Regions from separate parts of the Homo sapiens genome. Here all the other regions are linked to region 3. The links come from fine-mapping of genetic effects on gene expression. A gene starts in region 3. Each other region holds a variant in brackets. All regions are shown on one strand. Distances are from middle to middle. Region 1 overlaps ARHGAP39 (Rho GTPase activating protein 39). Region 2 holds the start of ZFTRAF1 (zinc finger TRAF-type containing 1). Region 3 holds the start of VPS28 (VPS28 subunit of ESCRT-I).

The links. PIP is the estimated chance that this variant, and not a neighbour inherited with it, causes the effect.
Region 1: its variant is the best candidate, but not a certain one, in a credible set for the expression of VPS28 in pancreas (GTEx, PIP 0.67).
Region 2: its variant is the best candidate, but not a certain one, in a credible set for the expression of VPS28 in esophagus muscle (GTEx, PIP 0.75).

What each region holds. Positions count from the first base shown.
Region 1 is chr8:144,575,160-144,583,331 of GRCh38, reverse strand. ARHGAP39 (Rho GTPase activating protein 39) reads left to right here. Exons shown (of 12, transcript NM_025251.3): 3 at 2,055-2,486. Among named protein-coding and RNA genes, the nearest start is that of C8orf82, 50 kb to the right of the region's middle. The variant G/A (reference allele first, on the strand shown) is at 3,181.
Region 2 is chr8:144,456,105-144,464,276 of GRCh38, reverse strand. The region is part of intron 2 of TMEM276-ZFTRAF1 (TMEM276-ZFTRAF1 readthrough); the gene reads left to right. It overlaps ZFTRAF1 (zinc finger TRAF-type containing 1), which reads left to right and starts at 1,406. Exons shown (of 4, transcript NM_001330618.2): 1 at 1,406-1,994. The coding sequence starts at 1,623. TMEM276 (transmembrane protein 276) reads left to right here. Exons shown (of 3, transcript NM_032687.4): 3 at 1-452. The coding sequence ends at 150. MIR10400 (microRNA 10400) reads left to right here and starts at 1,738; the gene lies at 1,738-1,792. RefSeq lists enhancers at 1-385, 480-1,157, 1,158-1,835 and silencers at 1,024-1,143, 1,194-1,493. The variant G/A (reference allele first, on the strand shown) is at 3,399.
Region 3 is chr8:144,423,854-144,432,001 of GRCh38, reverse strand. It overlaps VPS28 (VPS28 subunit of ESCRT-I), which reads left to right and starts at 3,454. Exons shown (of 10, transcript NM_016208.4): 1 at 3,454-3,513; 2 at 5,023-5,093; 3 at 5,794-5,822; 4 at 5,939-5,976; 5 at 6,230-6,319; 6 at 6,951-7,056; 7 at 7,183-7,284; 8 at 7,734-7,787; 9 at 7,870-7,961; 10 at 8,080-8,148. The coding sequence starts at 5,057. It overlaps TONSL (tonsoku like, DNA repair protein), which reads left to right. Exons shown (of 26, transcript NM_013432.5): 24 at 851-924; 25 at 1,465-1,598; 26 at 2,666-3,227. The coding sequence ends at 2,859. RefSeq lists a silencer at 3,279-3,628 and an enhancer at 5,359-6,122.

The DNA of each region.
Region 1 (8,172 bases), 150 kb before region 3:
AAGGCTGTTAACCTTTTTGAAAATATGAAATTATAAAACAAAAAGTTAAAACTTTAAAAATAAAAGGAAGAGAACATGATCAGTGGTATCAAAAGTGGCACAGCTCCCTCGGGACTGAAAGGTGCTGCCTAGATTTGTTCGTCAGGAGCGACTGGGGGACCCACTGTGGGCTGGGAGGGAGGGGCTGGGCAGCTATTGGTGCCTGGCGAGACCCCGGGCTGAGAAGGGAAAGCACGGACCAGAGCGGGGGTGGCCCCTGTTGCGTGTGGTTTGCTGGACGGTGGACGGTGGAGTGGGTGTGTACGCCAAGGGTGTGGCGAGACATGCAGGTGGAAGTTCAGAGTCTGGGGCCTGTGGAGGGTCTGAGCCGAGCAAGCCGAGGCATTTGTTTGGGGGGAGTTGTTGGCAGATGTACTCAAGCTGAGCAAAACAACAGGACCCCCACCACCTCGCCTTCCCACGGGGATGACGGTGAAACATCCACAGGCGGGCCTCAGGAGTTCTCATCTGCCTTCCCCTGCAGCCCTCCACCACCAGCCCATCCCCAGGGTGCCCCTTCTCTCACTGGCCCTCCTTCATTGGACTTCTGAGTGCACCACTGTGGTGTCTGCACTCAGGCCCAGTCCCACCCGCCTCATCCTCCTCCTGCAGCCAGACCCCTGAGCCAGCTCCTTCCCCACGTAAGGCCCTGAGCACGCCCACCTCATGGCCCCACGTGGACTGTCCCTCGGTGCCTTCTGCCTGTGGCATCCAAACACAGAGGAGCAAACAGTGCCCAGTGGCCAGGGCCTGAAGGAGGGCTTGGGTGGCAAGGCCTGTTTCTCAGCTGCTCATCTGCATCAGCAAGAAACAGACCCAGAACCCCCAGGGCTGCTGCTGGGGCCGCCGCCACTGTGTGAGGGCCCGGCTTCCCCAGCTGGCCTCTGGGGGTGGCGGGGACAGACTCCGCCTGGATCCTTGGTGTCCTACGAGCAGGTGTGGTGCGCATCACAGCCTGTTTTCAGAGCCGCCGTGTCCCTGGCCTGGTTTCAAAGGGTGGGACGTGGGATGAAGGTCGCCCCCGCAGCCAGTCTGCGCCGGCCGCCAGGGGGGCTCTTTCTGTCCTTGACCTGGGGGAGCCGCAGGCAGCCCCCACTAGCCCGTGTCTGGGCCTGGTGTCCGCTGGCCCTTCTGCCCTCACCACTTGCCTCCCCTTCTGTTGAGCCCCTGGGATTAGTGCATTTTCCCTGGAAACGAGACCCCTCACCAGCCCGGTGATGGCGAGGACCAGGCCTGTCGCAGGGCTAACGAGACACCTCACCAGCCCGGTGATGGCGAGGACCAGGCCTGTCGCAGGGTTAAGAGACGGATGCATGGGTCCATGGGAACGCCTCCTGGCAGCATCTTTGCTGAGAGGCTCTTGGTGCCTCTAAGGGTTTTTGTTTCCGTGTAGAAACATGGAAGAGGCCTCAGAAACGTTACTGAGCTGGAGGCTGTGCCCCCAGCGGGGGTCTGAGGGCCGGGTGGAGACTCTGCCCCCCATCGGGGGTCTGAGAGCCAGCTGGGCCCTTGGCCTTGCTGATCTGGGGGATCCTTGGGAGAACACAGCTTGGGAGTCCAGCAGCACTTAGCTGGGCCTGAGGCCCCTCCAGACCCCGACCCAGTGTGGAGGTGGCGGTCCAGTTGCAGCGGAGGGGCTACTGAGCAGGTGTGCAGTGATGACTCGCAGGCCTGTGCCACGATCCTGCAGGACGGAGCAGTGGGCAGTGAGGTTGTGGCCTGGGTGCCTGTGAGGACAGGAGCCTGCAACCACAGCCAGTATGTCCCTACCCCACGTGGGGCCCAGGACCCCCCAAAGGGCTGCACCACCCTGAGGCGCTGGCGGCTCCGGGGGCTTCCCCGGTTGCGGGTGCTCAGGAGCACAGCAGTCAGGGGCGGACTGGGCTTGGGTTTGCTTTCCTCTATGACAGGATTTCTGGGTTTCGCAGCTGGGGCTGGAGCCGGGGTCTGCAGGGGTGGGAGGCGCGGGCCCAGGCCGCCGTGGCTCCAGCCGCCTTAACCCTGTCTCTCCCCAGGTTGGAGTGGGTGGAGATCATCGAACCGCGCACCCGCGAGCGCATGTACGCCAACCTGGTCACCGGTGAGTGCGTGTGGGACCCGCCGGCCGGCGTCCGCATCAAGCGCACCAGCGAGAACCAGTGGTGGGAGCTGTTCGACCCCAACACGTCCCGCTTCTACTACTACAATGCCAGCACGCAGCGCACGGTGTGGCACCGGCCGCAGGGCTGCGACATCATCCCGCTGGCCAAGCTGCAGACGCTGAAGCAGAACACGGAGTCCCCGCGCGCCTCGGCGGAGAGCAGCCCCGGGCGCGGCAGCAGCGTCAGCCGTGAGGGCAGCACCAGCTCCTCCCTGGAGCCCGAGCCCGACACTGAGAAAGCGCAGGAGTTGCCAGCGAGGGCCGGGCGGCCCGCGGCGTTTGGGACAGTGAAGGAGGACAGCGGCAGGTGAGGGCGGGGGCAGCTGCTATGGGCGGGGCCAGGTGAATGGAGTGGGCGGGGCCAGGTGAGGCAGGTAGGGGGTGGTGGGCGGGGCCAGGTGAGAGCGGGACTGGTGAAGGTGGTGGGCGGGGCCAGGTTAGGAGTAGGTCGGGTATGGTGGGCGGGGCCAGGTGAGTGGAATGGGCGGGGCCACGTGAGAGCGGGACTGGTGACGGTGGTGGGCGGGGCCAGGTGAGGAGTAGGTCAGGTATGGTGGGCAGGGCCAGGTGAGGGCGGTGGGCGGGGACCCAGGGGACTCAGTGTCCCCGCGAGTGGCCAGAGCCTCGTCCTTGGCTGTAGCAGCCACCGCTGCTGTCCCCAGTGAGCACTTTCTTGTCTCTCTGGGCAGCAGAGCCTGGCGCTCAGCCTCAGAGGGTTCTGGGTCCTCCAACCCTGCCCCTCACTGGCCCAGCCCCTGGCAGGTGGTGGTTCCTGAGAGCAGTGTCTGAGGGGCTCGCCCAGCTCTCTCTGCTGATGGGAGATGCAGATGTGGGGATTTGCGTGCGGGCGTGGGGTGTGTGGACCTAGGGGGACCCAGGTGGAGGGTGTAGATCAGTGTGGACACAGCTGAGGGGTCTGAGCAGGCTTGGAGGTGGTCCTCTGGAGTCACAGTGGCTCCGAAGGAGCACAGCCTGTGTTGGTGGGAGCCCAGGAGACCCCT[G/A]CCCTCAGAAACAGGGAGAGGTCAGGGTAGAGCGCAAGGGCCTCGAGGTGAGTGCACCGTGGGAAGCGAGTCCAGAGAGGACGGTGGGGAAGAGCCGAGGCAGGCGGGCAGGACAGTGGGGAAGGGCTGAGGCAGGCGGCAGGCCAGCAGGACAGTGGGGAAGAGCCGAGGCAGGGACAGGAGGCTGGGGCTTCCCAGAGCCCAGGCTGTGGCCCAGGGCAGACAGGCCTGGCCACTGCAGGGGCGGATGGAGGCCACTCTGGAGAGGATGGAGGAGAGGCTGGACCCCAGGGAGAGAAAGGCAGGGGATTGGTCTCCCCCAGTACCAGATTTTCGGTGCTTGGCTGAGGTTGCCAGGGGAGCTGAGGCCCAGGGGCTTTCTGCAGAGGTGGGAAGGAGCGTGTTGGACTGCCGGGCTCATCTGAGGCTTCAGAAGAGGGATTCAGAGTGAACCACAGAGCTCAGAGGACAGCAGGCTTCCGTCCCACCGTGCCGAGGTGCAGGCACAGAGGGAGGCGGGCAGCAGGTTCATCCCGTGGACCCGGTCTGGCAGGATGAAAGGGAGGCCAGGGATGGGGCCTGCTGCAGAGTGGGCAGGAGGTGGGGCAAATCAGGTGTGGAGGAGCCACTGGAGCACACCGGGAAGACGGTGTTGGTGTCGGTATTCAGGGCAGGGTGAGCAGCGGAGGCTCGGGCGTGGCGTGGGTGAGCGAGCGGTGCAGAAGGCGGGCACAAAGAGGACCAGGGCCTACATTTCACATCCCACCAGCAAATATGAGGGTTCAAAGTTATCCACGGCCTTGCCAACACTACTTGCTTTCCTTTTTAGATTTCTTTTAGCTATTGTAGCCACTGTGAAATGTCTCATTGTAGTTTTGGTTTGCATTTCCTTAATGACTAATGACTTTGAGCCTTTTTTCACTTTCTTTTTTTTTTTTTTTTTTTTTTTTGAGACAGAGTCTCGCTCTGTCGCCCAGGCTGGAGTGCAGTGGCACGATTGCTGCTCACTGCAAGTTCCGCCTCCCGGGTTCACACCACTCTCCTGCCTCAGCCTCCCGAGTAGCTGGGACTACAGGCACCTGCCACCACGCCCAGCTAATTTTTTGTGTTTTTAGTAGAAACAGGGTTTCACCATGTTAGCCAGGATGGTCTTGATCTCCTGACCTCGTGATCCACCCACCTCCCAAAGTGCTGGGATTACAGGCATGAGCCACCACGCCTGGCCCCTTTTTTCACTTTCTTGATGGTATCATTTGAAAAACAAAGGTTTTTGTTGTTTTTGTTTTGTTTGTTTGTTTGTTTGTTTTTGAGACAGGGTCTCTCTTTGTCTCTGGGGCTGGAGTGCAGTGGTGCAATCTCACTGCAGCCCTCACCTCCCGGGCCCAGTGACCTCCCACCTCAGACCCCCAAGTATCTGGGACTGCAGGCACGTGCCACCACACCAGGCTAATTTTTGTATTTTTTTTGTAGAGATTGGGGTTTCACTATGTTGCCCAGGCTGGTCTCCAACTCCTGAGCCCAGGCAGTATGCCCACCTATGCCTACCAAAGCACTGGGATTACAGACATGAGCCAAAGTACATGAGCCAAAGTGTGCATGGCCAAAGTACAAAGTTTTTAATTTTGGCCAAGAAAAGTGGCACACGCCTGTAATCCCAGCACTTTTCAAGGCCAAGGAAGGCAGGAGTTTGAGGCCAGGAGTTTGAGACCAGCTTGTCCAACGTGGCAGAACCCTGTCTCTACTAAAAGTACCAAAATTAGCTGGGAGTGGTTGTTCACACCTGTAATCCCAGCTACTCGGGTGGCTGAGGCAGGAGAATCACTTGAAGCCAGGAGGTGGAGGTTGCAGTGAGCCGAGATCGCACCACTGTACCCCAGCCTGGGTGACAGAGCAAGACTTTGTCTCAAAAACAAACAAACAAAAATTGACCTGTCATAGATTTGGGTTCATTTCTGGCCTCTCAATTGATTTGCATTGATCCATATCCCAGTACCACATTGTTTTGATCACTGTAGCTTTGTAATAAGTTTTGAAACTGGAAAGTGTGAGTCTTCCAGCTTTATTCTAATTTTTCAAGGTTGTTTTGGCTATTTGGAGCACCTTGCAATTCCACAAGAATTTGGGGATTGGCTTTTTCATTTCTTTTAACAACAACAAAAAAAAAGCTTTTGGAATTTTGGATCTGTGTGGGGGATTGTGTTGGATCTGTAAGCTGATATTTCATCCAAGCAATATTAATTTTCTAATCCATGAACAGAGGATGTCTTTTCATTTGCTTATGTCTGATTTTTCTTAGCAGTGTTTTATATTTTCTAGTTTACAGTCCTTTCACCTCCCTGGTAAAGTTTCTTCCTAGATATGTTATTCTTTTTGATGCTGTTGTAAGTGGAATTTTTTGTTTGTTTGTTTCTGGATTGTCCATTGTGGTGTATGGAAACATAACTGATTGTGTGTTGATCTTGTATTGTGCAACTTTGCTGAATTTCTGTATTAGCTGTAGTAACCTTCGTTTATAATCTCTGGGATTTTCTATATATAGGACTATGTCATCTGTGGTTAGTGATAGTCTAACATCTTCCTTTCCAATTTGGATGCCTTTTTCTTCTCCTTAACTGATTGCCCTGCATAGGATTTCCAGTGCAGTGTTGAATGGCAGTGGTGAAGGGGCATCCTTGTTCTGCTCCTGATCTCGGGGAAAGCTTCCAGTCTTTTCTATTGAGCAAGTTCCTTGATACTCCTTGTGTTCCCAGTGGTTTTATCATGTGGATTTTGTCAATGCCTTTTCTGTATCAGTTAAGATGATCACGTGGTTTCTCTCCTTCAGTCTATCTGTCAGTGTGGTGTTTTACACTGGTTGGTCTCATGTTGAACCGGCCCTGAGCGTGTATTCCGGTTGTCACAGCAGCATCTGTGTGCTTTTGAAAAACAGAGGAACCTCCCTGTGGGCTTTCATATGATCCATGAAACCCACGTGAGCAATCTCATGCCTGCAGTTAAACACACACCAGAGCAGGCCAGGAGTCCTTGGCCCTCCAGCGGCATTTCCCAAAGGAGATGATACTGAAAGGTACAGAATTTAGACTGTTGTAGAGGTTAAGGAATAAAAGACATTCGTGGCGTGTACAGGTGGAGCTCCGTGGAAAGGTGACTGCAGCATCTGGTTTATGGTTTAAATGGCATAAGTGAAAAACAAACCTGTTGGTTTGCTGTAAATACTGACTGCAGTTAAATCCTATGGTCCCTCTGGAGAACAACTTCTCCCAGCCAGAGACGGGCAGGAGCTCATCTTGCACAAGTCGAAGCCAGATTTTGAGAATCGTGAATCATTTTAAGAAACAAGCGGACGAGCGGACTTGGCGTTAACATTTTAAAAATAACTCTCCCTCAAGAGCCTGTGCTGTGCTGCTGCGCTGGAACCTCCGGCTTCCTCTCACTGAACAGAATGGACGGCTTCGGGCCTGCGCAGAACTTCTCAGAGAATTGGTATTGGATTATCATAATTTTGAATTTGTTATTCGTTTTGACTCGTCTCTGCAATTAGGTGGAGGAATTGGTTTCTTTTTGTGATTCTCTTTTCAAAATGTGTCAGTCACCCACACTTGCGGGGCTGTTCTTCCCCAGAGAGGCCGTGGGTCTGGCCTTAGCCCTGCCCTGTCACCCATGGCTCAGGGCCCACTCTCTGGGGACTGGAGTGTCCATCTCTTCTCAAAAATGTCTCAGGAATGCTGGGGTGATGTGGGGCTATTGGGGCCAGGACTTCCATGAGAAGCTCTGTGGGAGGTTTTTTTTCGTTCTTTTTTTTTTTTTTTTTTTTTTTTTGAGACGGAGTCTCACTCTGTCGCCCAGGCTGGAGTGCAGTGGTGCAATCTCGGCTCACTGCAACCTCCGCCTCCCAGGTTCAAGCAATTTTCCTGCCTCAGCCTCCCGAGTAGCTGGGACTTCAGGCGCCCACCACCACACCTGGCTAATTTTTGTATTTTTAGTAGAGACACGGTTTCACCATGTTGGTGGCTGGGCTGGTCTCGATCTCTTAACCTCATGATCTGCCCACCTCACCCTCCCAAAGTGCTGGATTACAGGCGTGAGCCACCATGCCCGGCCACTCTGTTGGGATTTTGACTAGAATTGCGTTGAATTATGGATTAGTTTGGGTAGATAGATGTCTTTATAATACAGTCACGTGCCACGTAACATTTCCATCAGCAGCACACTGCATATATGAGAGTGGTCTCATAGATTATAATGGAGCTGAAAAGGTTCTATGACCTACCATGGTTGTGTGCAACACCGTACTCGCAAGTCTGTGGTGATGCTGGCGTAGACAGACCTGCTGCACTGCGGTCCTACAGAGGAGCAGCACGTGTGGTTATGAACCGTGCATAGTGCTTGACCATGATGATGATACGTGACTATGTCGCTGGTTTGTGTATTCACTATACCATAGTTTTTATCATTTAGCGTGCACTTAAAAAAAAAATGTTAGCTGGAAACACCCTCAGGTGGGTCCTTCTGGAGGTGTCCAGAAGGCGGCGCTGTTGTCTCAGGAGGTGATGGCTCCACGTGTGTTGCTTTCTCCCAGGACACCATGTGGCAATGGGAAGACGGTGGTGTTGATGATCCTGAGCATGGGTAGGCCTAGGCTAGTGTGTGTGTTTGTGTCGTAGTTTGTAACAAAAAGTCAGTTTAAGAAATTTTAAATTAAAAAAGCTTATAGAATAAGAATGTAAAGAAAGAAAATATTTTGTATAGTTGTACAATGTGTATGTTAAGCAAAGTGTTCTAAAAGACTCAAAAAGTTTAAAGAAACTAAAAAGGTTATAAAGTAAAAAAGTTACAGTAAACTAAATTTATTACTGATGAAAGAAGAAGTTTTAAATGAATTGAGTGTGGCCGAAGTGTACAGGGTTGTCAAGTTAGGAGTTGTGTGCAGTGATATCCAGGGCTCACTCACCGACACGCACGGCAACTGCCAGTCCTGCAAGCTCTGTTCCT
Region 2 (8,172 bases), 32 kb before region 3:
GCGATGCTGGGTGTGGCAGGCCTCCTGAGCCGGCTGGAGGAGGACAGGCTGCTGCTGCTACCGAAGGAGGATGTCTGTCGCTGGGCCTTGGCTGTAGGCAGCTGGGCTTACTGCCGGGCCCTGCATACACAGCGCCTCCAGTGGGAGTGACAGTTGGATACAGCCAGGCAGGGTTTCTGCCCTGCCGAACACTTTCCCTCCCACCTGCCTGCTCCTGGCGCCTTCTCCCTAGGGGTAGACTCTTCTGCCTACTGAAGTGGGTTTGCTGCACATTGACTGGTCAGGGGCAGAGTCTGGGTGCTGTCCTTTGGCCACGTGTGGGGACTTGTCTAGACCAGAATGAAAGGGACAGGGTCCCAGACACGTTTGGGGGTCCTGATTCTGGGCTGGACACGGTTGTGGATCCAGAGAAGAGGCCTAGTCTCCAATAAATCTTAGGAATTTTGCAGGAATATGAAAACTGCCCATTTTTGAGAGGGATTGAGGGATCTTTCAGTGAGCTTCCTAAGGCCCCTCAGGACAGTAGTCAGTTACCCTGACAGGGTATGTGCTGGAACTAGGATGGGGTCTCATGCAGCCCGGCCTCCTTTTGACTATTGTCAGGAAGACCCCTGGGCTGAGAAGACATAGCCCTGGGCCCTTACTCTCCAGGGACATGGTGGAGTTCCAGATATCCTGGCCTGGCCTGGCAGGTGGCCCTCTGGGGCAGTGACCTTCAAGAACTGAAGAGTAGGGTGGAGGCAGGGGAGGGCTGTACCACAGGCGTTTCGAGAAACGCACATCCTTCCCAGAGCTGATTCGCCCTCCTGTGTACCTCCGGCCTGTGGAAGCCAGCCCTATTCCCTAATACCTTCGTTTTCCTCAGTGGACCCCTTCAGTCTCCAACCCCAGGGTTAGAGGGGGTTCGGACGAGCAGAGGATTAGATTCCGGTGGGTTAGGGGTCTGGAGTCCCCTCTCCTGGAAGTCTCTCCGCTTGCTCCTGTGGAGACCTAAGGGGTCCCGCACCCGACAGAGAGGGGTGGCCGGCGGGATTTTTCACTTGTGTCCTTCCCCTGCGGGGAAGGGGGCGAGAGCCCCTAACACAAGCCTGAGTCTTGGGGGACAGAGACACAGGCACACCCCGCCGTAGGGGTCGGCGGCCGCCACTGGCTCGTGGAGCGTGGGTGCCGCGCCGGCGCCACAGCTCGCGTGGGCCTCCCTGCCCCCAGGTGCGAGTCCCTCCGCGACTCTCGCAGGCCGCGCCCCCTCCCCGCCCACCTTCTGCAGGGGCGGGCCTTCGGGGGCCCTCGCTCTCCCATTGGCTCTAGTCCCTGCGCTTTCTTGCCCCAAGCGGCGCTCCCATTGGCCCCGCGTGGGGCTCACGTGACGGGGAAGACGAGGGGGTGGTGGCGGCGGGGCGGGGGGAAGCGCACAGCGAAAACAAAGATGGCGGCCGTGCCGGGGTCGGTGGCCGCGGCGGCTGTGGGGCTACGCGCGGGCCGGGCCCACTGAGGCGGCGGCGCAGGGAGCGGGGCTGCGGGTTCGCGGCGGCGGCGGCAGGAGAGCGGCGGGAGCGCGCGGCGCCCCTAACTTCTAGTCGGGGGAGCGCGCCGGCATCCGCCCGCCGGGCCGGCCGGCCGCTATGTCCGGCGCCGAGGAGGCCGGCGGGGGCGGCCCGGCCGCGGGGCCCGCGGGCTCCGTGCCGGCCGGGGTCGGGGTCGGGGTCGGAGCCGGGCCCGGGGCGGCCGCCGGGCAGGCGGCGGCGGCGGCTCTGGGCGAGGCGGCGGGGCCTGGGCTCCCGGACGAGGCGGGCTTGGCGGGCGCCCGGCAGCTACAGCTGCAGGAGGCGGCCGGCGACCCCGACGCGCCGCCCAAGAAGCGGCTGCGGGCAGCCGAGGCGGCCGAGGCGGCGGCGGCGGCGGCGGCGGCCGGCAGCGGGAAACTGGAGGAGCGGCTCTACTCGGTGCTGTGCTGCACCGTGTGCCTGGACCTGCCCAAGGCCTCCGTGTACCAGGTAGGGCCGCCGGCCGACCCCGACCCGGCCCAGCCCGGGGCTGCAGCCCCCGCCGCGGGGCCCCAGGATCCGCGTCTCCTCGGAGGCCAGGCCTGCGGGGCCCGGCGGCCGGGAACCCTCTCTGGCCCTTACAGCCACTTCCTCGCCCAGCGGGGCTCCAGCGGCTGCTCCGAAGCTCCTCGTTGTCTTTCTCTCAGGGCTTTATTTTCCGCTCGGGACCCCCCTTTTCTGTTTTCTGATCCACGGTACTTCCCGATCTGAATCGCTTGTCTTCCGCTTACCTCTCCCTTCTTTTTTCTAGACTTCCCCACGGTCCCCTGAACACTCTCCCAACCCACAGCCTCAAACTGATCCTTAGCCCGCAACTGCTCCCCGCAACCCACCCGGTCCCAAGCTCCCTGGGCTCAGAGTCCTGTGCTCGAGAGCTCCTTCCCCATTCTTCCGGCAGCCACACCCCCGAGTTTGTCCCTCCACTCCTGAACATCCTATGGACGCCTCCTTTTCTACCCTCCTGGGTGGAAGAATCCTTTCTCTTGGTCCATTTCCAGTTCATCCTGAAGAACAGTAAGGAGAGGGGATTGCTGTTTGTCGGGATGAACCATTTGCAACAAGCCCCACAGTTTGGGTACCTTCTCCAGTCCCAGCCAAACCCCACATCCAACTGGACTTGCCATGCCCCACGCTAGGCTCCTGCCCACCTCACCCAGGCCAGGCCAGGCTTCCTAGGCAGCCAGTGCTCCAGGAGCCGGCCCACCCCTCCTCCCCCATCTTCACATCCGCATGGCAGTGGGACTCAGCCCTTAAGCAGCCTAGGGCTGTTAGGGTACCTGGCCCAGGTGGGTTTGACATGCCCTTTCCCAGGTAGCAGCAGGGACAAACTGGTTGACACCCAGAGGCAGAGTACAGTGTCCCCACCTTCCCTGTGTCTTTCCCTCTCTTTCAACTCCCCAGTCCCTGTGAGAAATGAAGCAGGTTCTCTGTCAGCTTTCTTTACACTTACAGGAGCTGGAAGTAGCTAATGGGGCCTTGTTTCCCTGCTTGTGTTTGAATTGGGGGCCTGGATGAGGAGCTACTTTTGTAGCAGGTGGTGTAGGGCTAGTCTAGGTTGCCATTTCTCCAAACTCTGGATCTCCAAGTCCTTCTTGCTGTGGCATGACCTTGTCGGGAGGACCCCAGTGTGCCTGGGTGGGGAGAGGGCACTGGCTCTAACCCACCCTCCTGGGTGTCAGGCACCAGGGCCAGCTAGGGGAGCACTTTTCAGAGCCACTGGCTCCCAGAGTTAGCAGTTACTCCTTGGCTTTGGCAGTGCCTCAGCTTCCAAGATGTGCCCACTCTCCAGCTCCTTTTTCCTGGCTCACAACCTTCGATCCTCCCAGGCGGAAGAACTCTCCTTTTTTTTGAGAC[G/A]GAGTCTCACTCTGTCACCCAGGCTGGAGTGAAGTGCCACGATCTCTGCTCACTGCAACCTCCGCCTCCCGAGTTCAAGCAATTCTCCCTACCTCAGCCTCCCGAGTAGCTGGGATTACAGGCGCCTGCCACCATGCCCGGCTGTTTTTGTATTTTTTAGTAGAGACGGGGTTTCGCCATGTTGGCCAGGCTGGTCTCGAACTCCTGACGTTGGGTGATCCGCCTGCCTCGGCCTTCTGAAGTGCTGAGATTACAGGCATGAGCCACTGCGCTTGGCCAGAACTTTTTCTTGGATCTCGAGGGAGACTCCAACAAGCCAAGCCAATGGTGTGAGGCCACGGGGGAACAGGGAAGTCTCCTTGTCTCCCCATTGGTGGGTGGGCTGGAGCTGTAGCTGGACCTGGTGGTGATGGGCCACATGGTACTGGTCCCTGGTGCACTGCATCCCCCATCTAGACTGGCCCGGCACAGAGTGATGGCTCTGCTTCTGACCGGAGCTCCTGGTGACCAGGCCTCTGAGCCTAGCTGGTTCAAACCGGCCTGCACTGTGCAGAGTGGAGTTCTGCTCTGGGCGGCCAGAGGCAGGGAGCTGAACAGGTGTAATGGAGACCGAAGGCGCTGGGGCTGCCCTGGCTGGTGGCCCTCCCTGGCCTGGGGGCTCTGTTCAGTGACTTCCCTGGGAACAGAGCAGCTGAGCGAGGAGTGCTGTGGGCACAGGCCTCCCTGAATGCTGCGAAGAACACCTCCGGCGGGTGGCTCTCGGCTGTGAGTGGTGCCCCTGGAAGGTCAACACAGACCTGGAGACCTGGGCTCTGGCCTGCTCTGCTCCCTGGAGAATCTGGGCACAGATGGTGTGGGCCCCCACATGCTGCCTTCTGCGTGTCCCTGGTTGGGCCCATGCTGGCCATCACCCCAGCTTGGGTTCAGTCTACCATATTCTACTAGCTTTCCTTGGTGACCACGTTGATTGGCTGTCTCGAGCCAGCCAGTGTCAGGAATGCAGCAGGTTCCACCCTCTGTTCCTGCTAGAACGCTTTTCCTGACCCCAGCAGAACACATGGCTCAGGGTGGGCACCAGCCAAGCTGGGGGCTGACTTAGACAGTCCCTGACTCTGGTGAGAAGAGGGGAGTGGCCATGCTGAGCTTTGTGTGTTCTCCCTGGCACTGGGGCTGTGGGGGACAACTCCATGGGCCTCTGGAATTGGCTGGGTCCTCAGTAACTCGAGAGCTTGTCATCCAGATACCAGATGCCACCAGTGCTGGCAGGGAAGCCTCGGGTGGTGCCCCAGGTCTGAGCCTTTGGGCCTGCAGGGCCAGCTGACCCATGGGCCTGTGCCCGTACGATGATGCCTCACAGGCTGGGAAACCTGCTTGGGTGTCAGACTGAGGCCCTCATGCAAAAGGTTTCCGCCACCGCCGAGTCCTGCCTCACGTCAGGTTGGGGCTGCAGCCAGTACAGCAAGACTCAGCTTTTATGTTCTCTGTGTGGGTGTTAGATATGTTCTGGGGGACTGGCCTGACAAGGTGTGCAGCCACCTTCTGGAGTCTCAGGTGGGTGGCAGGAGGGCTGGTGGGGCAGCAGTTACACCTGTGCAGGAGCTTCTGGCCTGACCAGGCCGCGCAGGTGGTCAGGTCGTTCCTGCCGGCTCCCTGCTCTGCGGCCCGAGGGCAGTGTGGCCTGTTGGCACCTCTGCCCATGGGGCACCTCCTCTGGGAAGAGACAGCCTCAGCGGTGCCCGGGACGTTGCAGCCGCAGCCTCATCCCTGACTTCTCTCCCTCCATTTTGGCCCTTCAGACGAGGCCCAGTGTGATGCTGCGTAAGACAGACCTGGCCCTGACCCTTCCTGCTGCTGTCAGATGAGGCCCTGGGCCTTGGTGCTGGCACCTGGAGGAAGGGACTGCGCATTGTTCCCACCCCTCATGGGGCATTCTTAAGGCAAAAACGGGCTCACTCGGGTGTAAGTGCCGGGCAGGGGCCTCTCACAGATGTGGTCCAGCCGCTCCCTCTAACTCGGCCCTGCACAGTGCCCTGCCATTCCCATGCTCTCCTGCCTGAGGTGTCCTCTCCCTGCCCCTGCCCACCTCTTGGGCCCGGCAGAGGCAGCGCCCCCACTTTGAGACTTTGTTCTCTCCTTGCTACAAGGATCCCCTCCTGCCCCATCTGACCAGGGTGTGTCCACTCTGTTCTGTGGGTGGGTTGGTGTGTGCCGTGGCCCTCCCGCCTGTAGCGCCCATGTCTCTATGCCACATGTTGACAGTCCATTGATAACAGCCCAGGAAGCAGAGATGGCTCCTCTCTGCCCGAGCCCCACACCCCCAACCAGGCCAACAGTGTGCAGTCCTGGGGGGGTGGAGTCACCATCCACATGTCCAAGGAGCTTCGGGCCCCTCTTCCCCAGTCTCCTGGGCAGCAGTACAGGACTGCAGCTGACTCGTTCTTTGAGGTGAGGAAAGTGGCAGAAAACATCTTTGTAAATACGTCTGCTTAGGTATCTAAAACACAGGAGCAAGGAAGATGTTCTGGAATCTCTGGCTAGTTGGAATTTTTGTTTTCTGTGGTGGTTATCATTTGAGTTACTTTTAGATCTAAGCAGCCTTGTTCTGAATGTGGGCCCGACTCTGGGGATTGATTGGCCACCGTTTGAGGTCTGACAGCAGTAGCAGGTGAGGGACTTCAAATCCAGCCTGGGTGGAGGGTTCGAGTCCTGGCTTCATGCTTAACAGCTGTGCGGCCTTGGACAACGTGCCAGTCCCTCTCAGACCCATGTTTGATTCGGGAGGTTAGGGGCCGAGCACGCGGGGTGCATGGGGTGTGCCCTGAAGCACCACTGGCCCTGGTGAGGCCTTGCCTGCATGCAGATGGCAGAGGAAGGGGGACCTCCAACTGGCTGAGCAGCGCTTTTGGGGTTTGTGCCACAGGGAAGCCCTTTGGCTGCATTTTGGCTCTGACGACCTCTGTCAAGGGCCTGTGGGTCCCTGACCCCTGGGTGAGCGAGGGCACTGCTCCCATGGGCCTGGGCACTGTGCCATCCTCCAGTGGCAAACAGGAGGTCCCCAGGGTCTGAGAGAACCATGCAGTCCAGGTGTGAAAGGGGTCCTACAAGGTCAGCTGACCATAGAGACCTTGGGACCACCAGGAAATCGTGGGGGCCCTCAGCCAGGGGATGGGGTCAGGGCTCCTTGAGCCTGTTCCGCCCATCTAGCTCCCCTTTAACCCCAGGGAAGAAGTAGCTCAGGTGGAGACCCTGGGTCTGCATGGGGGTCACGTGAGCTGCCTGTAGCCAGCAGGGGGGAGGGCTGGGTGCTGTCCTGAGGATGCAGGTGCAAATGGCCATTTCTGGGCCACCTGTGTGTATCAGCATCTGCAGAGGGGCCTGGGGTCTGGCTCCTGGGGTTGGCAGCCCCAGGGGCTCTGCCATGGCTGCCCAAGGTGGTGATATTTCCTGTCTGCCTGTTGGGTGTGGGGCAGTGCCACCCTGTCCCATCCCACCTCATCAGCACAGAATGAAGCTGGTCCTATACTCATCACCTGTGCACATGAGGAAACTGAGGCCCCAAGAGGGGAGCCCAAGGTCATATTACTGGGGATCTGTGGGCTGGCGTCTGAGCCCAGCACTGTGGCTTCAAGCCCACATCTGCCCTAGGAGGGCCCAGGAGGCCCTGTGATGTCATTCCCCCGTGATGTCATTCCCCCATGACATCATTCCCCTGTGATGTCATACATGTGACGTCATTCCCGTGCTGTCACCACATGATGTCATCCCCTGTGGTATCACCTCTGTGATGTCAATACCTCTTTTAATGTCATCCCCATGGTGTCATTCCCCCCATGATGCCATCCCCCCATGATGTCAGTCCCCCATGATGTCAATTTCCCACAATGTCATCCCCTGTAATGTCAATACTCCCTTTGATGTCATCCCCGTAATGTCATCCCCTGTGATGTCATTCCCTCATGATGCCAGTGTGATGTCATCTCTGTGATGTCATTCCGTGATGTCACCCCCCATGATGCAATTCCCCTGCAATGTCATGCCCCTGTGATGTCATCCCCCGGTGATGTCATCCCCCCATGTGATGCCAGTCTCCCATGATGTCCCCCCTGTGATGTCATTCATGTGACATCATCCCGTGATATCATTCCCGTGATGTCTCCCCCATGATGTCATTCCCCATGTGATGTCAATTTCCCACGATGTCACCCCTCTGACATCATCCTCTGTGATGTCTCGCCCATGATGTCATCCCCCATGGCGTCATTCTTGGTCGTGGGGGGTTGTGGATCCCCTCCTCTCCCCTCCCTTGGGGTCTTCCTGGCTGGTGGGGAGAGGTGGCCTGGCCTGGGTGCCACAGCAGCTGCTCTGGAAGGTGCCCGGGCTCTTGGGGGCCTTGGCCCACGCCATCCCCTGGACTGTGCGGCGCCCTCCAGGGCCCAGCTTCTGTTGGGTGTTGGGCACAAGTCAGAATCAAGTGCATCTGGCCAGATGCTGCCAGGGCCAAGGATGCAGCTGCCTGTGGCCTGGCCTTGGTGTAGAGCCAGAGTCTTGCGCAGGGGCTGAGGGGACCCAGATGGTGGGGAGGCTCCGGAGCATGTGACCAGGGACCGTCCTGCTGTGGACAGACCTCCTGGGCTGAGTGTTGGTCGGGACCGGGCCATGCACCTAGAGATGTCCTTTGACCAGTGGGGAGGGTCTGGGGGTGAGTGTGGCTGTGTCCCTTGGCTACTGGGCCAGTGTAGTCCAGGGCACTCTAGGGACTCCCTGTGTTCTGACT
Region 3 (8,148 bases):
ACAAAAATTACCCAGGCGTGGTGGCGGGTACCTGTAATCCCAGCTACTCGGGATGCTGAGGCAGAGAATTGGTTGAACCCGGGAGGCAGAGGTTGCAGTGAGCCTAGATTGCACCATTGCACCCAGCCTGGGTGACAGAGCGAGATTCCGTCTCAAAAAAAAAAAAAAAGAAAGAAAAAGAAAAAAACAGGCTGGGCGTGGTAGCTTACGCCTGTAATCCCAGCACTTTGGGAGGCCGAGGCGGGCGGATCACGAGGTCAGGAGATCAAGACCATCCTGGCTAACATGGTGAAACACCATCTCTACTAAAAAATACAAAAAATTAGCCGGGCGTGGTGACGGGCTCCTGGAGTCCCAGCTACTTGGGAGACAGGCAGGAGAACAGCGTGAACCCGGGAGGCGGAGCTTGCAGTGAGCCGAGATGGCGCCACCGCACTCCACCCTGGGCGACAGAGCGAGACTCTGTCTCAAAAAAAAAACAAAAAAAGAAAAAAACAGCTGGGGGAATGCTTTTGTACAGCTGCCTGTCTCAGGCTGTGAATTCCTGCCCACCAGATAGGACCCGGGACTCAGGGTGATCTTGCCCCCCGCCAGGAAGGTCCCAAGGGGCACACTAGGGCCCCTGATGCTCTCTCCTGGGGGGTCTTCCAGGCACAACTGGGACCCTATTATTTTCACACTATCACGTGCAGAGTGTGACCCACATCAGGAGAGGTGTTTCCTTCCGATCTCCAACTTGATGGGGGACTCTGCTCCCTTCTGGGCCCCTGGGTGTGGTGCACCTGCTGGGAAGCAGGCAGGGCAGGTGCGCCACTCCGTTTGGCCCCCTTGGGCCTCTGCTCATGTCCAGGAAGGCTGTGCTCTAGCCCACCTGACCCTGTCTGCAAACCACCTGGGGGACAAGGCTGTTAGAGACCTGTGCAGGTAACGCCCTTTCCCTGCTGCCTGCTGACCTGGGGGTCTGATCTCATGGCTCTGGACCCTATGGGAGAAGGGCCACAGAAATGGTACCAGCTCCTCCTCCCCAGCACATCCCAAGACCTGGCTCCTTCGGTTTCCACCAGCCTCTCAGGCTGCCCTGGAAGGCAGACTACCCTCTGGCTTCTTTCTTAGCATGGGCCTGTGGCTCTTGAGAGCACTCCTCCGGGGGTGTCCTTGTCATTCCTGTGCCTCGGCCCACATGAGGGCACTGCTCTTATGACCTGGAGCCTCAGTCAGCTCTCTGGGGAGTGTTGAGAGGAGCCCAAGCTGGGCCAGGCACACCCAGAGCTGGCCACTGTGGCCCTGACCCCTGGGAAGGACCCCCAACCCTAGAGGGCCACCTGCTACTGGGCCAGGCTGAGGCAGAGCCCCTGGGTCTGGCCCGAGGCTCCCTGAGCTGGCATTTGTCTGGGCAGCTTTCCTAGTGTTGGGGCACAGCCTCTCTGGAAGCCAACCTTTGCACTTCTTCCCATGTTATCTCAGATGTCTCTCTCTGTGCCCCTCACTCATCTCACTGGATCTGTCTGCCAACCCTGAGATCAGCTGTGCCAGCTTGGAAGAGCTCCTGTCCACCCTCCAAAAGCGGCCCCAAGGCCTTAGCTTCCTTGGCCTGTCAGGTGAGTGCTGGTATGGTGGCCACGCCTGCCATGTTCGGCCTTTTCAGGGACCTGCCTGAGACCCAGGTGCCTCCTCCTAAGGGGCTGTCACTGCTACCAGCCAGGCAGCAAGGCTGGGCTCCATGAGGCTGGGGCAGCAGGGGGCAGAGTGACAGTGACAGAAAAGGGGCATGATCCCAGCTCCTAAAACCATGGGTTAGGGGGCGAGGTGGGTATCTGCCTCTGGTCTCTCCAACCCAACCTTCAGAGCAGACTATGGTAGGCAAGACCCTGTTCCACAGGGACTTTCTTCTTGTCCCTGGCAGGAAAAGGGATCCCAAGGTCAGGGTGTTGAAAGCTGCCAAGGGACCCTCCTACTTCCTGGCAGGGGCTCCTCTGACACAACCCTGCCCAGGGCTGTGGTCTGATTTAGCTTGTTCTCTCTTGAGCCACATCAGGGCAGTCCCCAACCTGAGCTGTCTGGAAGACAACCCCAGGAAGGGCTTTGATGACCTGGCTTGCCCCACTGGGGCCGGGGCAGGCTGTGCCCTCCAGGGGATGAGGGCTTAAGTGAATGTGCACGAAGCGGGGCTCTGCTTTCTTCCTGTGCCCCCTCCCCTTCACCTCCCAGGGCCAGGCCGCCTTTTCCAGGAAGGCCCCCGAGTGCTGGTGTGAGACCCCTTCCCCACACCTCAGTTCCTGGCATCTGTACCTTCCCACCCAGCTCCCTGAATTCCTGAGCTTAGTGTTCTCTTGATCCACTCAGGCCCACGATGTACAGATTTGCAAGCAGATCCATTATGTCCTTCTTATGGGTGGGGAGACTGACGTGTAGGCATGGACTTTGAGATCGGGCACTGTCAGAGGTAAAGAAGGGAGCCACCCTTCCTCCTGTCTGACCGCTGGCTGTGCAGATGATCCCACCCCTTCCTGGAGAGTCATGGGGCCTCTCCGGAGCTCTGCCCACTGCCCCTCGCTACAGCCCTGGGGCCCTCAGCGAAAGCGAGTTTGTTCCCTGGAGCCTGCCGCGGGCACCAGGACGCCGCCGGCCCCCGCAGCGCTGAGGTCTGCCCTCTTCCCCTCCGCAGGCTGCGCCGTCCAGGGTCCCCTGGGCCTGGGCCTGTGGGACAAGATAGCCGCGCAGCTCCGGGAACTGCAGCTGTGCAGCAGACGCCTCTGCGCTGAGGACAGGGACGCCCTGCGCCAGCTGCAGCCCAGTCGGCCGGGCCCCGGCGAGTGCACGCTGGACCACGGCTCCAAGCTCTTCTTTCGGCGCCTCTGACCCTGGCGCTGCCTTTCCCCACCCTCACCGAAGCCCCTAATAAATGAAGCTGCTGGCCGGGCGCGGTGGCTCACGCCTGTAATCCCAACACTTTGGGAGGCCCAGGCGGGCGGATCACGAGGTCAGGAGATCGAGACCATCCTGGCTAACATGGTGAAACCCCGTCTCTACTAAAAATACCAAAAATTAGCCGGGCGTGGTGGTGGAAGCCTGTAGTCCCAGCTACTCCGGAGGCTGAGGCAGGAGAATGGCGTGAACCCGGGAGGCGGAGCTTGCAGTGAGCCGAGATCGCACCACTGCACTCCAGCCTGGGCGACAGACCGAGACTCCGTCTCAAAAAAAAAAAAAAATAAAATAAATGAAGCTGCTGCCTCCCTCCCCGTGGCTGCCTGGCAGGCGGGTGGGCGGGGTAAGACCGGGCTTCGAGTCTGCTGCGCCGGTTACGTCCCGGGGGCTGCGCGGCTGGAGGGAATGTCCCGAAGTCCGGGCGGGCGCGGGCGCAGGCGTGAGGGCTGAGCGCCGAGCTGCCGATGGGGACGGAGGGGCGGGGGGTCGCCCCGACGCGCGCAGGCGCAGACATGAGGGGCGAATGCCGAGTCGCTGACCGAGCGCACCCCGCCCCCGGCGCCATCTTCCCGACCGCGAGCCGTCCAGGTACCCGGGGCCCGGCCGGTGGGCGGGGAAGGGGCAGAGTGGGGAGAGGCGACTCAGGGCCTGGCACCCTCTGGGCGCGCCTAGGCCCCGGCACAGCTTCGGCTGAGCGCCGCAAAAGTCACGTTATTGGCATGTTCTAGAAACTGGCTTTCCTTGCTCGTTGTCCACTCTGCGAGGTTGTTTTGCACATTTGCTTGTGGCCGCAGAACGTCCGCTTTCGCTGTTAGGCAGAAGCTCCTGCGTGGTTGGGGCGGTTGGCTCCTCGGCGCTCTCCTGCCTGGCGGCTCCGTGACGGCTGCCGAGCAGCCTCGGTCCCCACCCCGCGGCTCGCAATGGCCTCGACCCTCGGAGAGCTTGACCCAGACGTTCCCTACCTACATGAGCGGCGACGCCCTTTCCCGGCTCTTCCTCGGCTGGGGCGCCCCAGGGCTTCGGCGCGGGCGGCCTTCCCTCACTTCTGCTCTTCTCCCATCCCCGGTAGCACCGTCCACTCCCAGTTAGCCGGCTCAGCGCTGCTCTCCCGGGCCTCTCCACCGAGAGCTTCCTGCGCCTGCCCGCCAGGCCCGCTCCTCCTCCCCTCTCCGTCTGAGTTTATCTTACTGCCCGGCCCATTGGGCCAAAAACAGGGGTGTCGTTCGTAACTCCTTTATTTTAATCCTATCTCAAATCCCTCGGCGGATCTGACGGCTCCACTTTCAAAGAGAGAACGTCTGGAGCTGGCCCAGCTTCCGTGCTAGGCAGGACCCTCCCACGGGCCCCGCTCCCATTGTTTCTCCACAGCTCGCTGCCCAACTAGGGGCACCTCTCCATCTTCATTCCCTAGGACCCCCTCTTTCGAGAAGCTGCACCTTCAGCTTGTTGGTTCCTCCAAGTTCATGCCTACTTAAAGGCGGGCTGTTAAGTGTGTTGTTTCCTGTGCCCCAAACTCTCCTCGTGGGCCATCAAACAGCTGCCTGCCGCCCTCATAACCTCCCTCAACCTCCAGCTTGAACCACACTCCACTGCAGCCCCCGCCCCGCTCTCCTGAGTGTCCATAGTACCTCACTTTTTCTGGTAGCCCCTATAGCACCCTGTGTGTTCACCATTATTGAGCTTAGGAGAGCTCTTCATGGAGCCCTGGGTCTCCAGGACCTGGCACTTACGGGCTGTCTTTTTTTGTCGGTTTTTTTTGTTGTTCGTTTGTTTGTTTTGAGACAGGGTCTTGCTCTGTCTCCCAGGCTGGAGTGCAGTGGCTCGGTCTTGGCTCATTGAAACCTTCACCTCCTGGGTTCAAGCGATTCTCCTGCCTCAGCCTCCTGAGTAGCTGGGATTACAACCGTATGCCACAACGTCCGGCTAATTTTGTAATTTTAGTAGAGACAGGGTTTCACCATGTTGGCCAGGCTGGTCTCAAACTCCTGACCTCAGGTGATCCGCTCACCTCGGCCTCCCAAAGTGCTGGGATTACAGGTGTGAGCCAGCGCCTGGCTTAGGGGCCATCTTTGAGTCGGCCCTGGCTCTGCTCCCCAGGTCTCAGTGCTGTGCCCCCCCCAGAGCCTAGAGGATGTTTCATGGGATCCCAGCCACGCCGGGCATAGGAGGTGAGTGTGGCTGGAAGGGCGCAGGCTTTCAGCCGCTTCTGCAGGGGCTGACGGGCAGTATTGGGTATTGGGGATCGGGGGTGGGGAGGTATCTGACCCTGCTCTCGTACAGCCTTGGGGGTGGCCAGGGGCTAAATAGTTCATTGCAGGAGCACTGAGGGCTCAGAAACCTCCAGACAGAACTGGCTTGGTCCTGCTGGGCAGAGATGATGAGCTTCGGTGTGGCCAGAACGGTGGGGGTCCTGGGCACCCTGTGTCACCAATCCCAGGGGAGAGGCTGTGTGTGGTGAGCCTTGTTGGCACTGCATCATGAGCCACGAGCAGGGCGTGGCCACTGTTGTGCAGGTGACTCCGCCAGGGAGCCATGGTGGAGCTGGGGAGCTGGGCCTGTCATGCGGTCCCCCGGGGAGCCGCAGTGGAGCTGGGGAGCTGGGCCTGTCATGCGGTCCCCCGGGGAGCCGCAGTGGAGCTGGGGAGCTGGGCCTGTCATGCGGCCCCCGGCTTCTCAGAGGTGTTATCATCAGGTCCCCCCACACACTGATAGGGGTGAGGTTGGAACCTCTGTGCTCCAGCTCCCTCTGGGCTCTTTGGGACCCAGCCTGGGAGGCCTCAGGGAGGAACTGAAATGGAGACTGGGACTGGAGTCTGCCCTTGGGTTCCCTTTGGGGCCAGCCTGCCAGCTCTCTGCCTTCTCTTGCAGCCCCTGGGAACAAGCCGGAGCTGTATGAGGTGAGTGGTGGGTGCCCACCCGGCCGGCATTGGCCAACAGCAAATGCCTGTGTGGCCTCACCAGGGTCCTGCAGCCCCTGTTGGCACTGGCCCACAGAGCCCGCTCTCTCCGGCAGGAAGTGAAGTTGTACAAGAACGCCCGGGAGAGGGAGAAGTAAGTCCAGGCGCCCAGGCTGTCCCAACACACCCATGCGCATCTGGCTGCCCTGGGGCAGCCCCTCCAGACCCACCCCAAACTGAGGGGTGGGAGGACGCAGGGTCAGTCTGGGGAACTGTTCCTGAGGCACTCCAGGATGGAGCAAGAGGTGGGCAGAGCGCCCGCAGTGGCACCTCCGGGCAGGGGGTAGCACTCTGGGCTCTAGGCTTGGCACCCCGGGGCCTGGCCCGATAGACAGGTGTGTCCTCAGGTACGACAACATGGCAGAGCTGTTTGCGGTGGTGAAGACAATGCAAGCCCTGGAGAAGGCCTACATCAAGGACTGTGTCTCCCCCAGCGAGTAAGAGCCCACGTCCTGGGAGGTCTGTTCCTGCCCTGGGGGGCTTGGGTGCTCCATAGGCAGCAAGAGCAGGCGTCTGTCAGGCTGGGAGGCACCCACTTGTGTGGGGCCCACCCAGCGTGAGGAGGGTGCCCCTGGGTCTCAGCCAGGGAAGTCCTGGGGGCTGGTGAGGGAGGCGGGCAGAGGCGCAGCTCCTGGGGTGTCATCCGGCCCACTCCCCCACCCTCATCCCCCAGCACAGGCAACCTTAAAAAACGGTCGAGAGGCTTGGGGATGTCCCAGGATCTTTTGGGGGGGCTTTGTTCAATGAAGTGACAAGACCGTCACAGGCCACCGCACAGGACCATGAGCTGTGGATGCGGCCATCACAACAGAGGGCTGGTCGCTGTGGTTCAGAGGGTGGGCAGGGGTTGGGGGCCGGGGTCTCCACCTGGAGCCGAGCTACAAGCCCCACTACGTGCTCAGGGCCTCACCCCCAAAAGCTACTAGCAGCCCCTCCTCCTTGCTCGGCCTGCCTTTGCCTGTCGCCTGGTCCTCTCTGGAAGCTGCTTTGCCTCTGGACCAGCCGAGGGGGTAGGATGAGCTGGGTGGGGCTGGTCCCATGCTTGGGCAGCAGCTGACCTCTCCCTAGGTACACTGCAGCCTGCTCCCGGCTCCTGGTCCAATACAAAGCTGCCTTCAGGCAGGTCCAGGGCTCAGAAATCAGCTCTATTGACGAATTCTGCCGCAAGTTCCGCGTGAGTGCCTGGTCCTTCCACCCCCATGGGGCGAGACTGTCGGGCATGGGTATGGGGTGCCAGAGGGCTCTGGCCACCTGGGGCTTGCTGTCCTGAGAGCCCCAGCACCCATGTCACCCCCAACAGCTGGACTGCCCGCTGGCCATGGAGCGGATCAAGGAGGACCGGCCCATCACCATCAAGGACGACAAGGGCAACCTCAACCGCTGCATCGCAGACGTGGTCTCGGTGCGCCCCAGCCCCCAGGGCACGTGGTTAGGAGAGCCGAGGCTGCCTGCTGCAGCTGGGCACGAGCGTAGGGTCCTGGGCCTCCAGAGCTGAGCAGCACTCTGACTTGCTGGGCAGAAGGGAACCCCTTTAACTAGGAATGAGGGGTGGGCAGCATGCGGGGACGCCCCCAGGCCACCTGGACTCCTGTCGGGGGGATGAGCACAGGGTGCGTTCTGGCGGGGTCCTGGCCTCGGGAGAGAGTGTGGGTGTGGGCCCACCCTTCAGTTCCCACACAGCTGTCTGGGCAGCCAGGACCTCGTTCACCCAGGAGGCCTGCAGGGTTTGGGAACAGAGTACAGTGAGGAGGCCCAAGTGACAGCTGTGGCTGAGGAGGGGTTGGGGCCCGTGAGCCGTGGGGCCTCCCGCACCCGTGGACACGCGAGCCTCATGTGCACACCTGCCCCCAGCTCTTCATCACGGTCATGGACAAGCTGCGTCTGGAGATCCGCGCCATGGATGAGGTGCGGGTATTGGGCTGGCAGGGGGCCTAGGCAGGAGGGGATGGAGCCGGCGTCGGGGTCCCAGCCGCTGTGTGTGTCTCAGATCCAGCCCGACCTGCGAGAGCTGATGGAGACCATGCACCGCATGAGCCACCTCCCACCCGACTTTGAGGGCCGCCAGACGGTCAGCCAGTGGTGGGTGTCCCTCCCAGCCAGGCAGAGCCCCGCAGTGCCCGAGACCCTCCCAGCCAGGCGGAGCCCCGCAGTGCCCCTGAGGCCCTCAGCCCCCACATGCCCTGTGCTGCACTCCCAGGCTGCAGACCCTGAGCGGCATGTCGGCGTCAGATGAGCTGGACGACTCACAGGTGCGTCAGATGCTGTT